Homo sapiens: one gene and its partner. The protein of the gene in region 1 interacts with the protein of each later gene in a pairwise test. Each region holds a gene or a part of one and is shown on either strand. Other genes may lie near its edges.

Region 1 (3,912 bases):
GAGAAGCCCCCGGCTCCACCCAGCCTCCCTGCTGGCCCCCCTGGGGTGAAGCGGCCTCCACCCCCGCTGATGAACGGTCTGCCCCCTCGGCCACCGCTGCCTGAGTCTTTGCCACCGCCCCCGCCAGGAGGCCTGCCTCTGCCACCCATGCCCCCCACAGGGCCTGCGCCCTCAGGGCCCCCGGGACCACCCCAGCTACCCCCGCCAGCTCCAGGGGTCCACCCCCCGGCCCCAGTGGTGCATCCCCCTGCATCTGGGGTCCATCCCCCAGCTCCTGGCGTCCACCCCCCAGCTCCTGGCGTCCATCCCCCAGCCCCTGGGGTCCACCCACCAACCTCTGGGGTCCACCCCCCAGCTCCTGGAGTCCACCCTCCAGCCCCCGGGGTTCACCCACCAGCCCCCGGAGTCCACCCACCAGCCCCTGGGGTTCACCCACCAGCCCCAGGGGTCCATCCTCCCCCATCAGCGGGGGTTCACCCCCAGGCCCCGGGGGTGCACCCAGCAGCCCCCGCCGTTCACCCTCAGGCCCCAGGGGTGCACCCACCAGCCCCAGGGATGCACCCTCAGGCCCCGGGGGTCCACCCCCAACCTCCCGGGGTCCATCCGTCGGCTCCTGGGGTCCACCCTCAGCCTCCGGGAGTTCACCCCTCAAATCCTGGGGTGCACCCCCCAACTCCCATGCCCCCAATGCTGAGGCCCCCACTTCCCTCCGAAGGCCCAGGGAACATACCTCCCCCTCCCCCAACCAACTGAGAAGCTGCTCCCTCCCCCAGCAAGCCCAGCGCCAGGTGCTCTTGCCTTTTCCCACTGAGAGAAGGCTGCTCTTTTGTACTGCCCCCCGCTCATTAAACAGCCTCCCCCAGCCCTGAGTGCACTGATGTCCGCAGCGCCGCCCTACTGTGTCAGTGTGTGTGGGAGTGCCAGGCACAGCACCATCCCCCAGTTTGGGCCGACTGGGGAGGGCCTGGGGCCCGCCAGGAGACACCTGTGGGAGGCCTGAGAGATGGCTGTACCTTGGAGATGGCCTGGTGGAGGACAGACCCCACCAGCCAGCTAGGAGGGGATCTGGGGTCCTGTTCTGGGGAGGGAAGAGCAGACTCCACGATATCCTTGGGGTCTCCAGATAGCCCACCAGGGGTGGGGAGGGTGAGCAGGGACAGGGCGCCCCCACTGACTTGGGACCCTCCTCCTCCAGGCCCACACCTCAGCACCCAGGACATCTGGGCCCCCCGCCCCCAGCGCTGTCTAGTTTGGTTGCCTGGCCGTCACTCCCAGCCTGGTTCCCACTCCTGTGTCTTCTGGGGATGGCCCTCAAGGACGGCATGTTGACACATCAGGCCCAGCTCTATCACTGGGGAGGGAGATAGGCTGCCAGGGACAGAAAGGGCTCTTTGAGAAGGCCACTCTGCCTGGAGTGGGGGCGCCGGGCACTGTCCCCCAAGGTCGCGGCAGAGGAGATAGGGGTCTGTCCTGCACAAACACCCCACCTTCCACTCGGCTCACTTAAGGCAGGCAGCCCAGCCCCTGGCAGCACCCACGATGCGGGACCTGCCTCTCACCAGCCTGGCCCTAGTGCTGTCTGCCCTGGGGGCTCTGCTGGGGACTGAGGCCCTCAGAGCAGAGGAGCCAGCTGTGGGCACCAGTGGCCTCATCTTCCGAGAAGACTTGGACTGGCCTCCAGGCAGCCCACAAGAGCCTCTGTGCCTGGTGGCACTGGGCGGGGACAGCAATGGCAGCAGCTCCCCCCTGCGGGTGGTGGGGGCTCTAAGCGCCTATGAGCAGGCCTTCCTGGGGGCCGTGCAGAGGGCCCGCTGGGGCCCCCGAGACCTGGCCACCTTCGGGGTCTGCAACACCGGTGACAGGCAGGCTGCCTTGCCCTCTCTACGGCGGCTGGGGGCCTGGCTGCGGGACCCTGGGGGGCAGCGCCTGGTGGTCCTACACCTGGAGGAAGGTATGTGGGGCCCAGCCCCAAGCTTGGCACCGCCGTCTTCCTTCAGGTGGGCCGGGTCCTCCTAGGGAAGATCAGGGGCTGGCAGAGCCCCCACCCTGGGCAGGGAGGCTGTGGTCTTGTTCCTAGGACTGGGTTGCGGGTCCGTGGCCTGGAAGGTGGGCACCACACTCTGTCCTGTCCCCGAAGCCCAGCTCTTAGACTTGCCCCTGCCTCGGTGCCAGGGAGAGAGCTGCTGCCTTCTCCCCACCCCTGAAGACGACGCAGGGCTCGGGGCCAGTGGAACCCTTCTTCCCACAGCCCCAGCCTGTTCTCAGGGCCGCTGGCCTAAGATACTCCCTGCGGGGAAGGGGCTTCATCGGGCACCCCAACCCAGAGACCCCAGGGCGGCAGCCCCACCCACAGCCTCAGACGCAGCCCCTGCCTGCCCCTGCCGTCACCGCTCCCTGGCTGCAGGAAGGCAGCTAAGAGGGGCACCCTTGTCCCCCGCTTGAGGTCCCCTGCACAGTGGCCAGAGCGGCAGGGACAGATCCCAAAGATTCCCGGGGGGTGTGGCCTTCAATGGCTCAGGCGTCCCCTGCTGTCCCGGCTGCAGTGACCTGGGAGCCAACACCCTCGCTGAGGTTCCAGGAGCCCCCGCCTGGAGGAGCTGGCCCCCCAGAGCTGGCGCTGCTGGTGCTGTACCCTGGGCCTGGCCCTGAGGTCACTGTGACGAGGGCTGGGCTGCCGGGTGCCCAGGTACCAGGGAGTTGCATGGGGCAGTGCCCGGGCCGTGGCGGGGGGCATGGATTTGTTGCAGGGTCTGCAGTACTGAGAACAGCGTAGAACCAGTGGCGATGGGAGGAAGGGGACCGGTAGAGCGGGGCTGGGTAAGCCTCCATCCAGCCGGGCTGAGCCCTGGTCTCCGCAGAGCCTCTGCCCCTCCCGAGACACCCGCTACCTGGTGTTAGCGGTGGACCGCCCTGCGGGGGCCTGGCGCGGCTCCGGGCTGGCCTTGACCCTGCAGCCCCGCGGAGAGGGTAGGTCCGCGTGGAGAGGGACGGGGAGCCGGGTCGACTGCCCCCGGGCCCCCAGCCCCTGAGCCAGCCGCGTGCCCACCCACCGCAGACTCCCGGCTGAGTACCGCCCGGCTGCAGGCACTGCTGTTCGGCGACGACCACCGCTGCTTCACACGGATGACCCCGGCCCTGCTCCTGCTGCCGCGGTCCGAGCCCGCGCCGCTGCCTGCGCACGGCCAGCTGGACACCGTGCCCTTCCCGCCGCCCAGGTGCGCGCAGGCACCGGGACACGGGGCAGGAGCGGGCGGGGGCGGCGTGGCCTCGTGGCCGCTCTCAACTCCTCCAATTGCGGGTTCCAGGCCATCCGCGGAACTCGAGGAGTCGCCACCCAGCGCAGACCCCTTCCTGGAGACGCTCACGCGCCTGGTGCGGGCGCTGCGGGTCCCCCCGGCCCGGGCCTCCGCGCCGCGCCTGGCCCTGGATCCGGACGCGCTGGCCGGCTTCCCGCAGGGCCTAGTCAACCTGTCGGACCCCGCGGCGCTGGAGCGCCTACTCGACGGCGAGGAGCCGCTGCTGCTGCTGCTGAGGCCCACTGCGGCCACCACCGGGGATCCTGCGCCCCTGCACGACCCCACGTCGGCGCCGTGGGCCACGGCCCTGGCGCGCCGCGTGGCTGCTGAACTGCAAGCGGCGGCTGCCGAGCTGCGAAGCCTCCCGGGTCTGCCTCCGGCCACAGCCCCGCTGCTGGCGCGCCTGCTCGCGCTCTGCCCAGGTGGCCCCGGCGGCCTCGGCGATCCCCTGCGAGCGCTGCTGCTCCTGAAGGCGCTGCAGGGCCTGCGCGTGGAGTGGCGCGGGCGGGATCCGCGCGGGCCGGGTCGGGCACAGCGCAGCGCGGGGGCCACCGCCGCCGACGGGCCGTGCGCGCTGCGCGAGCTCAGCGTAGACCTCCGCGCCGAGCGCTCCGTA
Region 2 (3,812 bases), on another chromosome or scaffold:
ATCTTATTTTGCTTCAGATTTATTTTGTTCAACCAAGTTCCAGGTACACTGCCTTGCAACTTTGGCTTATAGGAGGGTAAGCATTATGACAGTGACAGCTCCATCTGCCATCACAGAATCACAGCGAGTGCCACGTGTGATCATGGCATTTAAGAAGGCAGGCATGAAAGCATACAGTAGTCCCTCTTATCCATGGTTTTGCTTTCCAGTTTCAGTTACCTATGATCAACCTCTGAAATAATAATGACTCTAAAGCAGAAGAGTACTGTGCCTAATTTATAAATTAAGCTTTATCATAGGTATGTATGTATTGGGAAAAACATAGTGTACATAGGGTTAGGTTCTATCTGTGATGTCAGGCATCCACTGGGGTTCTTGGAACGTATCCCCCAAGGATAAGGAGGGACTACTTACTTTTATTTTTCTACTCTTTCCCCCCCAAGTCAGATTAACTCATAATTATCCAGATCTTAAGAACAATGTGACTTTAGGCAAGTGACTTAAGCTGACTTTGCCTTGTTTTTCTCATCTGAGAAATGAAGATAATGCTACTCATTTCATTGGGTTGTTATAAGGATTAAACTATGCTGATGAATGTTAAGTGCTTAGTATTACGTGTTTGTTAAATTTGTTAAAATAAGTAGAATGATATACTACTAAGTAGTATTTTCTAAACATCTGTTTCCCAAACCTGTAGTCTTAATTAAGCAGCTTCTTGACAGCTCAGACATAAATTCTCAGGTATCTAGTGCCCAGTTGCCAACTGAGTGGTTATAGTTGTTCAACACAAGCTTTGAAAAGTGATGATTAAGATTGGACACTAGGAAAGAAGTAGAAAATACTTCCAGGTCCATAAAGTAATTATTGCACAAAATTCATGCATCAAAGTTAAGCACTTTATTGGCAGAAGAGTTCCAGCATTTTCCTCCTTCATGGCCTATGTTTTTTTTGAGACATGCTCTCACTCTATTGTCTAGGCTGGAGTACAGTGGCACAATCTTGTCTTAAAGTCATATCGTTCTTAAGATCTCAACCTCCACCTCCCAGGCTCAAGCAATCCTCCCACCTCAGCCTCCCTAGTAGCTGGGACTACAGGTGCATATAACCATGCCTGGCTAATTTTTGTATTTGTAGAGAGAAGGTTTTGCCGTGTCACCCAGGCTAGTCTTGAACTCCTGGGCCGCAGCAACCTGCCTGTCTCAGCCTCCCAAAGTGCTGGAATTACAAGCTTGAGCCACTATGCCTGGCCCTAATAACTCTTAGTTTGTTCAACAAATATTTATTGAATATCTTGCTCTACTCAAGAATTTTGGAGTAAAAACTCAAGGACTTGATTAGCTAATTTTCGGTTTTTGCATGTTAGCAGTAGCAGCTGAGTTACAGGAAAGTTGTTAGGGTTGGCCAAGGTAAAGAAAAGAGATAAATGAACCCCTGAGAAAGCTCGGGGGTACCCCAGTATACTGCAGCCCCCTACATTATTTTATTATGAAGTGCTGTAGTTGATGTTCATAATCATAAAACTTTACCTCCAATAGGGAGGGCCCTTGAGTGTTATCTAATTTAGTTTTCTTGTTTTGCAATAGATAAACTGACCCAGAAACATTGAGAACACATTAAATCATGTTCTATAGGTTGTTTGTGGGAAGTTAGCCAAGTGTATATTGCCTTTTAGAAAGCTTTCCATGCAAGCTAGTTGTAAAGTTTGGTACCTAAAAATTTTAGCTACTATTTTTCCTGCCTCTTCATTATGTAAAACACTTAATGATATGAAATAAATGAGCATTATCTCACGTAGATCTCTCCTCAGAGATTAAAGCCTATCACAATAAATATAATTACAATGAAAATATTTAAGAAAAATATAATCACGATTTAGCCATGTGACCTTGGGACTCTACTACCTGTTCTATGAAATGATAATGATAATTGTCCCTCCCTGTATGATGACTAGTTTTTTAAAAATTTTGGTAAAATACATAAAACACAAAGTATCATCTTAGTCATTTTTAAGTGTGCAATTCAGTAGTGTTAAGTACATTCACATTGTGTAACCATCACCACTGTCCACTTCTAGAAATTTGTTATCTTTTCAAACTGAAACTCCATACCCATTAAGCAAATTAATATCTTCTGTCTTTATGAATTTGACTATTTTAGGTACCTCATAAAGTGAAATACAGTGTTTGTGTGTGTGTGTGTGTGTGTGTGTGTGTGTGTGTGTGAGTGTGTGAGACTTCTGGCTCATTTCATTTAGCAAAATGTCTTCATTTCTTTTGAGTGTATATTCAGAAGTTGAATTGCTGGATCATATGATAATTCTATTTTTAGGTTTTTCAGGAACTGCTATACCATTTTTCATAGCAGCTATACCATTTTGCCTTCCTGCCAGCAGTATACAAGAGTTCCTATTTCTCTGCATTCTTTCCAGTGCTTTCTGTTTTTTTTCTTTTCCTCTTAATAGTAGCCATCCTACTGGATGTTAGGTGGTATCTCTTTGTGGGTTTGATTTGCATTTCCCTAATGATTAGTGAGTCGAACGTCTTTTCATGAGTTCATTGGCCATTTATCTTTTATCATGGCTTACTTTTGATATAACTAGTTTAGATAGAATGACTAGATTTTCACATATAATCACATATGTGAAAGTCCTGAGAATTATAATGTCTTATATAAGTGAAAGTAGTGACTATGGCTGTGTTAACATTTTTTCTGAAGTTAATAAAACTCCACTGAACAGTTAAAAGAGGCACAATTCGAGTTCTGTATAGGAAGTTATTTGTACAGTTGGAATTCGTTGTGCTCAAGATTTAAGACAATTTTGGAATACATGTGTATGTGGCTAGCATAAGGCCATAGCAGACAATACTCATGACATTGAGATAAGTAACCAAAAAGAGAACAAAATTGATTACATAAAAGGAAAAACTTCTGTATGACAAAATATTTTATAAGCCTTATTAAAAGACAGACTTGGAAATGCTGTTTAGCAGTGAATTTTAATAGTTACTGTCAGAATAATTTAAATGCTGAAAGTTTTATTTCTGATCTCATCTACTTTGTGGAAATGTACATCTAGGTGAACACATTTAAAAATTTTCGTATGTATTTGTCATATAAAATTCTTTTAGCATAAGGAAATATGTAAAAAATTACATTAGTTTCAAAAATATCTTTTTTAGATGGAAGAATATATCTTTGTTGGGACAAAATAATGCATCTCTTCAAGAATTATGGCCATAAGGAACATGTTCTTAAAGTAGATTGTTACCAATGGTAAAAAAATATTTACTAAAATGGTTACAAATGCAATGTTGATATTAGAAGTTTATGCAGTGTCATTATAAGTGAGTAGCCTAACTTCAAATGTTTTATTTTGTTCAGTCAGGTCAATTCAGTGAAGATATGATACCCACAGTGGGCTTCAACATGAGGAAGGTAACTAAAGGTAACGTCACAATAAAGGTAAGTTATTTCTTGCCGTACGCAATTTAAATTGTTAGCACAGACCCCTAGAAATTTTTCTGTTAAATTTCTGTGTTTTTACTGAAAATTTGCAGTTTTTCAGTAATGAATGTGCATGTTTCAAAAGAATAGGTTTTTTTGTTGTTGTTTTTTTGTTTTTTTTTTGGAAACAGAGTTTTGCTCTTTCACCCAGGCTGGAGTGCAGTGTCGCGATCTCCACTCACTGCAACCTCTACCTCCCGGTTCAAGTGATTCTCCTGCCTCAGCCTCCAAAATAGCTAAGATGACAGGCTTGTGCCACCACACCCAGCTAATTTTTTGTACTTTTAGTAGAGACAGGGTTTCACCAT

What was found.
Region 2: the proteins of AMH (region 1) and ARL8B interact in a two-hybrid assay, tested with the Homo sapiens proteins (one large-scale study listed by BioGRID and IntAct).

Annotation. Positions count from the first base shown.
Region 1 is NC_000019.10:2,247,794-2,251,705, forward strand, and holds the start of AMH (muellerian-inhibiting factor preproprotein), read left to right. Parts: upstream 1-1,529; 5' UTR 1,530-1,539; coding exon 1,540-1,951; intron 1,952-2,543; coding exon 2,544-2,686; intron 2,687-2,845; exon of another isoform or gene 2,846-2,858; coding exon 2,859-2,967; intron 2,968-3,055; coding exon 3,056-3,215; intron 3,216-3,305; coding exon 3,306-3,912. Other genes in the region: SF3A2 (splicing factor 3A subunit 2), read left to right, coding at 1-753. UniProt on the Homo sapiens protein: Plays an important role in several reproductive functions. Induces Muellerian duct regression during male fetal sexual differentiation. Also plays a role in Leydig cell differentiation and function.
Region 2 is NC_000003.12:5,167,122-5,170,933, forward strand, and holds part of ARL8B (ADP-ribosylation factor-like protein 8B), read left to right. Parts: intron 1-3,381; coding exon 3,382-3,462; intron 3,463-3,812. UniProt on the Homo sapiens protein: Small GTPase which cycles between active GTP-bound and inactive GDP-bound states.